Homo sapiens: one gene and its partner. The protein of the gene in region 1 interacts with the protein of each later gene in a biochemical or structural test. Each region holds a gene or a part of one and is shown in the gene's direction. Other genes may lie near its edges.

Region 1 (3,919 bases):
AGGAAAATACAAATGTGACTTAAATGGGATTGAATGGGGTTCTTATTTTAAAAACTTGACTTTCTGACTTGATGATTTCTGTATGAGCTTTGTCAGGAGTTCAAGCTCAAAGCTTACGTTATTGTGTGTGTGTGTGTTTGTTTGTGTGTGTGTGTGTTAGGATCTCTTGGTTTCCCTGGACAGAAAGGGGAAAAAGGACAAGCTGGTGCAACTGGTCCCAAAGGATTACCAGTAAGTTTTGAGTATATTATAAAACAAAAAGAAGTAGAAGGAAGGCATTTTACACATTGATTTTCAATTATTCATATATATACACACATATACAATTTAATTTTTCCATTAAGTTGTACTTTGTTTGATTCCTTGACTCTTCCTGACTCACATGCCTCACTTGATTCAGCCCTTTGTACATTAAATGTTATTGGATGGGTTGAAGGGGTAAACTGGAGAGAAGAAAATGTTAGAAAAAAAGAAACTGATTTTCTTTTTCTCTTTCTTCTTTTTCCACTCTTTTTTCTTTTTTTCCTTACTCATTTCAGGGCATTCCAGGAGCTCCAGGTGCTCCAGGCTTTCCTGGATCTAAAGGTGAACCTGGTGATATCCTCACTTTTCCAGGAATGAAGGGTGACAAAGGAGAGTTGGGTTCCCCTGGAGCTCCAGGGCTTCCTGGTTTACCTGGCACTCCTGGACAGGATGGATTGCCAGGGCTTCCTGGCCCGAAAGGAGAGCCTGTGAGTTGGTTTGATATTTTTGGTTTTGTGATGTTAAATTTTCACTTAGAAATGTTTTCTAAGTTAATTCAAAGGATGGGACTGATGCTGAGATAAACACCCAATCAATGCTTAAAACAATGTGACCATACAGTAATGGCACATTGTTACTGACTACGTAGGGTTTCTGCACTACTCTTTTCTTTCACTTGTTTTGTAAACTTATTTTTCTTAACCCATTAATATTGAATACTATTTTCTATGAATAGGTGGGCAGGAGGTTAAGATGTTTATGAGACAGTATAAGGTTCCCCATCTCTTAACCCCCACATATCTTTCCTTGGGTTTACTTAAACCTCATGACTGGGCATGGTGGCTCACACCTGTAATCCCAGCACTTTGCGAGGCTGAGGTGGGCGGATCACCTGAGGTCAGGAGTTCGAGACCAGCCTGGCCAACATGGTGAAACCCTGTCTCTACTAAAAACACAAAAATTAGCCGGGCATGGTGGTGGGCGCCTGTAATCCCAGCTACTCGGGAGGCTGAGGCAGGAGAATCACTTGAACCCGGGAGGCGGAGGTTGCAGTGAGCCGAGATTGCACCACTGCACTCCACCCTGGGCAACAAGAGCAAAACTCCATCACAATAAATTAAATAAATAAATAAATAAATAAACCTCATAACCAGCAGTTTAACTTGTTTCTATATATATAGTAAGCTTAGAGAATAGTACAAGTAGATAGCCATGTTCAATGTGCCACAGAACTGAAAGATTTAACATAAATGAACAATCTTATTTTGTACATAACACACAGCCCAGGATATTTAGGTAGGAAGTGATATTTTATAATGTTATCTAGACTATAACCTTTCTGACTTACACTAAAATGTAAGCTGCATAAAGTCAGAGATTTTTGTGTATTTTTGTTTTCTGTTGTATCACCAGCACTTGACACATAGTAGGAGCCCAAAAATATTTGTTGGAGGAATGAGTAAGTGGAATGATCACACATACCATCTCATAATACCACTCACTTATATAGCTTTTAAGAAGAACTATTTATGGCTATATCCTTTCCCCAGTTGTATTCAGTACCAACCTACAGATAGTTGTTGTATCTATATGTTTCTGTATTAAACTTTTCCCTTTTTAGGGTGGAATTACTTTTAAGGGTGAAAGAGGTCCCCCTGGGAACCCAGGTTTACCAGGCCTCCCAGGGAATATAGGGCCTATGGGTCCCCCTGGTTTCGGCCCTCCAGGCCCAGTAGGTGAAAAAGGCATACAAGGTGTGGCAGGAAATCCAGGCCAGCCAGGAATACCAGGTAAGTTTACTGTGTTTTGTTTTAAACTTGGTGCTTAAAAACAGAAATTTATTATGTTTTGGCTACTCATGGCTTCCTTTCCCGAGAGGTGTGTTTCCCTGGCCGTTTATATTTGAACTCTTCAGAGCATCTTAGCAAGGGATCACAATGGTTTTTATAAGGGGGTTTCTTTTTAAATCTTTTCTAACTGTTTCATTGTTACTGTTAATTTTGCTCTTTTTAAGTACATGATACATAATGCAAAGTTTAATAAATAGTTATAACAGAAGCACACAGGTAGCTACCACACACATCAAAAAATAGAATGTTACCAGCATCCTAGAAACCCCTAACCTTTTCTCCCTGTCATTTCCTAATCACAATCCCCTTCCTCCTGTCTGCTGTCTTGACTTTTACATAGTTTTCTTCCATTACCCCTCTGTTTTATGACCTCTGTATGCATTTTTAAACAGAGTATTTTAATTTTGTTTCTTTTTGAACTTCATGTTAAAGGAATCATAGGGTAAGTGTTTTTTATATTAACTTTTCGTGTGGCTATAGTGTATTCATTTTTATTGCTATATAGTATTTCATTGTATGTATGTTTATGTGTGTGTGTGTGTGTGTGTTACAGTTGATTGATCCATTCTATGGTTAATGGTTAATTGGGTTATTTACAGTTCAGGTCTATTATGAATAATGCTTCTGTTTACAGTCATATAGATAGATAGCTAGGTAGATAGATAGATCCCTATATCTCCTTGTGTTCATGTGCTCACACTTCTCTAGGGCAAGAGTTGGCACACTACAGAACTACAGTCCATGGACCACATCCAGCCTACCACCTGTTATAAATAAAAGTTTTATGTGAACACTTCCACAACCATTCACTTTTGTCTGTGGTTGTTTTTGCACTACAACTGAAGAGTTGAGTAGTTGCTACAGAGACTGGATGGTCCACAAAGCCTAAAGTATTTACTCTGGTCCTTTACACAAAAGGCTTACCAATACCTGGGCTAGGGTATGTATTTAAGATTAGCATTTTCAAAGCATAGGATAAGTGCATCTTCCACTTGACTGGATAATTACAAACTCTATCCAGACCAATTGTACCAATTTTTACTACCACAAGCAGTGTTGAATATTTTATGTTGATTTACATCCTTGGAAACAATTTGTATTGTCGGACTTTTACACTTTTGCCAATCTGTTGAGTGTGATATTTTGCATTTCTCTGATTAAAGTTTAGCACCTTTTCATGTGTTTATTGGTCATTTGAATTTGCTTTTGTGAAATGCCTAATCAAGTACTTTGACCAATTTTATATTGGATTATTTCTTTTTTTATTGATTTAGAGGAGTTCTTTATATATTCTGTGCATTAGTTCTTAGTTACCTATGTATTTTGCGAAAAGAAATCTTTACCTACTGTGGCTTGCCATTTTTACTCTTTGTTTGGTGTCTTCAATGAGCAGAAAACAACTTTCACATCATCAAAATTATCAATCTTTTCTCTCATGGTTAGTGCTTTTTGTGTCATGTTTAGGAAATCTTTTTTTTCTTGAGCCAATTTCAAGTTCATGTTTCCATTAATAAGAAGTAGATATACTTGAACTTTGCACATGTAAAACCTAAATGTACCTATTAGCCAAAAAAATATTTTCCTTGTTTACTACAGTTTGATTTTTAATGCTCTTTTGGCCTACATTTTAAAAATACTTATATAGGTAACACCCTGTTTTAGGGGTTTCCAGAGAAACAGAACCAATAAAAAGGATGGACAGATGGGTAGATTAGATAGATAGATAGATAGATAGATAGATAGATAGATAGATAGATAGATGAGAGGTGATTTATTATGGGAATTGACTTACATGATTATGGAGGCTGAGAAATCCCACAGTAGGC
Region 2 (3,919 bases), on another chromosome or scaffold:
ACTCCATCAGGTAAAAAGTGGCAGATTGATGCAGTTGATAGTGGTGGAATTTCCATCCCCAAGTGACCAGTTGGCAAAGAGTGAGAAGGGATGTTAGCCACCCTCCATTCAATGTTTGACATTTGTAATGAGCATATTTTCAAAATGGAGGTCTGCCGGTATATATTGAAGTTTTCATCCATTCATAATTCTCAGGTTAGTTGCTATAGTGATGATGGTCCAAGGTACCATTTTATTTTGCCTTTGTTAAAATAGAGATGATAAGACTGACAGAATGTACTCTGTGTTCATAAGACACCAAATTATAAACAAGACCTAAGACCATGCCAGGCAAAGGTCAAGTCACACACTCCTACACTTAAAAAATAAACTATATTCTAACTGCCAAAAGGGTTTTCTTTTTCTCTAGCATCTAAACAAACACTGGCCTCCAGATAAGCAATATTGAAACAATTGCATCTTACTGACTGCAAGACACTAACTAATTAATCCTCCACCCCTACCCCTGTTCCACAAGCCATAACTACAGCTCTGACTGGACAAGAGACTGATTTTAATAACTCTCCTGATAAGAGACCACTGACCATAGACTGGTTCTGGCTGGTTTACAGAGGCTGTGGCACTGAGTGCCTTCATGTCTTCTGTTTCACCTTTTGACATATAGGGCCTAATTATAATACATTTAATTGTTAAGTCTCCACCTCAAAGTGAACATGAGACATATGCAACTTGCATGTTTGCTTACTATTCATGTTTGCTTACTAAACATGCATGTTGCATATGTCCCATGTTCACTTTGATGTGGAAACTTAACCCACCTGCTTCAGAAATATGCATAGTTCATGTACCCCTTGCTTCAGAAATATTCATAGTTCCTCCTATAACCTGTTGAATATGTATACTTGGCCAACTCATTTAGCATAAATTCCTGTTCCACCCTTTCCTCCCTCAAAGTGCCTGCTTTTTGTCTCTGCCAGAGGCTACACTTCCCAGCCTGTCAAGATGTCCAGCCTGCAGCTGTAACCCTTTATAAGAAATGAAGTTCTCCTTTCCAAATTTATGAACCTCAGGATTGTTTGTCAACATGTTGCTACTGCAATAGTCTCCTAACTGCTCTCCCTGTTGTCACTGTTGCTAACTCCAAATTCATTGTCTCATTGCAGCCAGAATGATCTTTGAAAAACACAGATCATATCAATTCATCTGCCACTCCACTCCTGGGCTTAAACCCCTCTAATAACCTCCTGTCACACTCAATATTAAATATCTGAATTCCTTATCTCAGTAAACAAAGCATCACATAATCTGGCCCTTGCCTATTTGTCTTACATCATCTTACCTGCAAAGCTCCAGCTACACAGTTTTTTTTTTTTCTTTTTTGAATATGCTAAGCTAATGTCTATGGACCTTTGCAGTAACTCCAAATGTTTCCCCTTAGAGCTCTTGGAATGACTGGGTCTTTTTTGTTAGTCACTGAGTCTGTCATTCTTTATCATCACAATATTTTAAATTTCTACAGGCCACCTTTCCAATATGGACATTTTTTTTCCTTGCTTATGTATTTATTTCTTATTGTCTGTTTTCACTCTTCAGCCAGACTGTCAGCTTCATGAAAGCAAGGGCTTGTTATCTTGTTCTGTGCACTAACCTCCACTTCTGGAACAGTGCCTAGCAAATAATAGGCACTCAATGAATCTTTGTTAAAGTAACTAATTTTTATCTTCAAAGAGCTGACATATCTGGTTGTATATCAAATATAATAAATGAAAAGTTAAATACATATGGCAACAAACAGAAGAGATGTATATGTAAGTACTACATAAAGCATTGATTTTGTTAAAAATGAAAAGGTATTTAGGTTCTAAAAGCCAGTTTTGACTAAGGGAGGGCGGAAGTCACGGAGGTGGGGGGAAGAGAGAGGAGGGAGAGCAGAACTAGTAGACAGAGGATTTGTGCACAAACTTGAGTGCTTGCACAAGTTTTGCAAAGGAGACCTAGCTTGCCCAAAGCTGAAATTCTCCAAAACTGGAGCTTGCAGGGAAATGACAGTGGGCTGAAATATTTTGAGGTACAACTTTCCACTCCCAAAGAGGCCTGCTATCCCCTCCCACTCCCCACTCCGGCCTTTCCTTGGCTTGGCTTTTTTTAAAGAAAAAAAAAAAAAAAACTAAGCAGGTTTCTTTAGAAGAAAAAGAGGAAGTTCATAAAGAGTGTTTGTGGTAGTAGGGGTGGGGTGGAGTGAGGAGTGAGGAGGCCGTCACCTCCCATGGAATCCTTAGTCTTGGGTTTGTGAACCACGCATGGGGGCTGTTTTAGCACAGCTGCTAAAATAGGCCAGGCCTGCAGGACATACGGGTATGTTTAGTTTCTAGATAACTTTTGTTTTTCTAAACTCCTTCTTCCCTTTCCCAAATCTGGCAAGCGTTAGTCATCTTCAACTCGGCAGGAACCCACAAGTGTGCATGTGTGGCTCGGAGGCTTCAGCTGGGGCCCCGCCCTCGTCCCCAGGCGCACACTGACACACGCAGCCCAGACCCGGCCCGAGCGGGCTCCTGCCCTCGGCGTGGCTTCTCTCCAGCCGGGAGTCCCAGGGCCAGCTAGCCTCCTCCCCTAAAGGGGACGGCCTGTCAGCGCAGTGCCAGAGTCCAGCACCGGGAGGAAAGTTTCGGAGTGCGGAGGGAGTTGGGGCCGCCGGAGGAGAAGAGTCTCCACTCCTAGTTTGTTCTGCCGTCGCCGCGTCCCAGGGACCCCTTGTCCCGAAGCGCACGGCAGCGGGGGGGACTTCAGCCCTCCAGGCGGGGTGGGTTCCAGGTCCGGGTCCGAGGCGGGCGCTGGAGGCTCGGCCCCAGGCCGGAGAGGAACTCCTTTCGCGAGCTGTCGCCGTGGGCCCGCATTGTCTGCAGGAACTCTCCGGAATCGGGAGGGGGAGGACTGGATCGCGCTTCCACTGGGATTCGTCAAGAGTTCCGGCGGCAGCTGCGGCGGTGGCGGAGACTCCCTTTGTCCTCTCAGGACCTCCCTCTCTCCCTCCCTGTCAGCTGGTGGGTCCCGCTGCCGCAGGCGCCGGCGTCTCAGCTGCTCGCCGCCCCCCACCCCAGAGTGCGTGCCGGGTGACTCCCGCCACCTTTGCGACCCTCCTGAGCTTAGGGGACTGCGAGCGGGAGGGAGTCTCAGGCCCCCGGCCGCAGGATGGTGGCGGAGCGGTCCCCGGCCCGCAGCCCCGGGAGCTGGCTGTTCCCCGGGCTGTGGCTGTTGGTGCTCAGCGGTCCCGGGGGGCTGCTGCGCGCCCAGGAGCAGCCCTCCTGCAGAAGAGCCTTTGATCTCTACTTCGTCCTGGACAAGTGAGTGTGCGAGGGAGGTCCAGGGTCTCCTGGTGAGGGCGGCACTGGATCAGCTGGGGCTGAGGCTGAGATGCGTGTGCGCACCCCGGGGAGTGGTGTTGGAAACCCGCGGAGGGGTGCCCTGTTGCTGTCTTCTTTCAAAGGGCAAGCGCGTTCGGATCTGTGTGGGCGGAGATCAGCCGGGTCGGGGGTAGTGATTGGAGCCCCGGGCTACTTGGCTCTTTGGGGAGTTGGGGTATTCACTGTTTGCCAGTCTTTTGGCCTCTTGGGAAATGGGAGTGTGGCCTCTTGCGGGCCACGCTCCATCGGCCACAGAGTCCTTACCCACCTCCTCGACCCTGCTCGTACGCAGGCTAAAGTTTGCCTGGTTTTATCCTAATCATAGCGCTTTCATTGGAGCCAGGAAAAGCCTAGGGTTAACATGCCCAATGTGGTTTGCATTTCCTGCGAAGAAAGGCTTTTGTGTTTACTCTGAAGAGCTGGGTTCCACTCTAAACAATTAGGCAGGTATTTACCCACCCCAGAAAACGGGCTGACTTCTTCTTCTTCTTTTTTTTTTTGACGGAGTCTTGCTCTGG

Evidence for each region.
Region 2: the proteins of COL4A5 (region 1) and ANTXR2 form a complex in vitro, tested with the Homo sapiens proteins (one study listed by BioGRID).

Annotation. Positions count from the first base shown.
Region 1 is NC_000023.11:108,596,838-108,600,756, forward strand, and holds part of COL4A5 (collagen alpha-5(IV) chain isoform 2 precursor), read left to right. Parts: intron 1-160; coding exon 161-231; intron 232-539; coding exon 540-731; intron 732-1,864; coding exon 1,865-2,033; intron 2,034-3,919. UniProt on the Homo sapiens protein: Type IV collagen is the major structural component of glomerular basement membranes (GBM), forming a 'chicken-wire' meshwork together with laminins, proteoglycans and entactin/nidogen.
Region 2 is NC_000004.12:80,071,831-80,075,749, reverse strand, and holds the start of ANTXR2 (anthrax toxin receptor 2 isoform 1 precursor), read left to right. Parts: upstream 1-2,520; 5' UTR 2,521-3,189; coding exon 3,190-3,341; intron 3,342-3,919.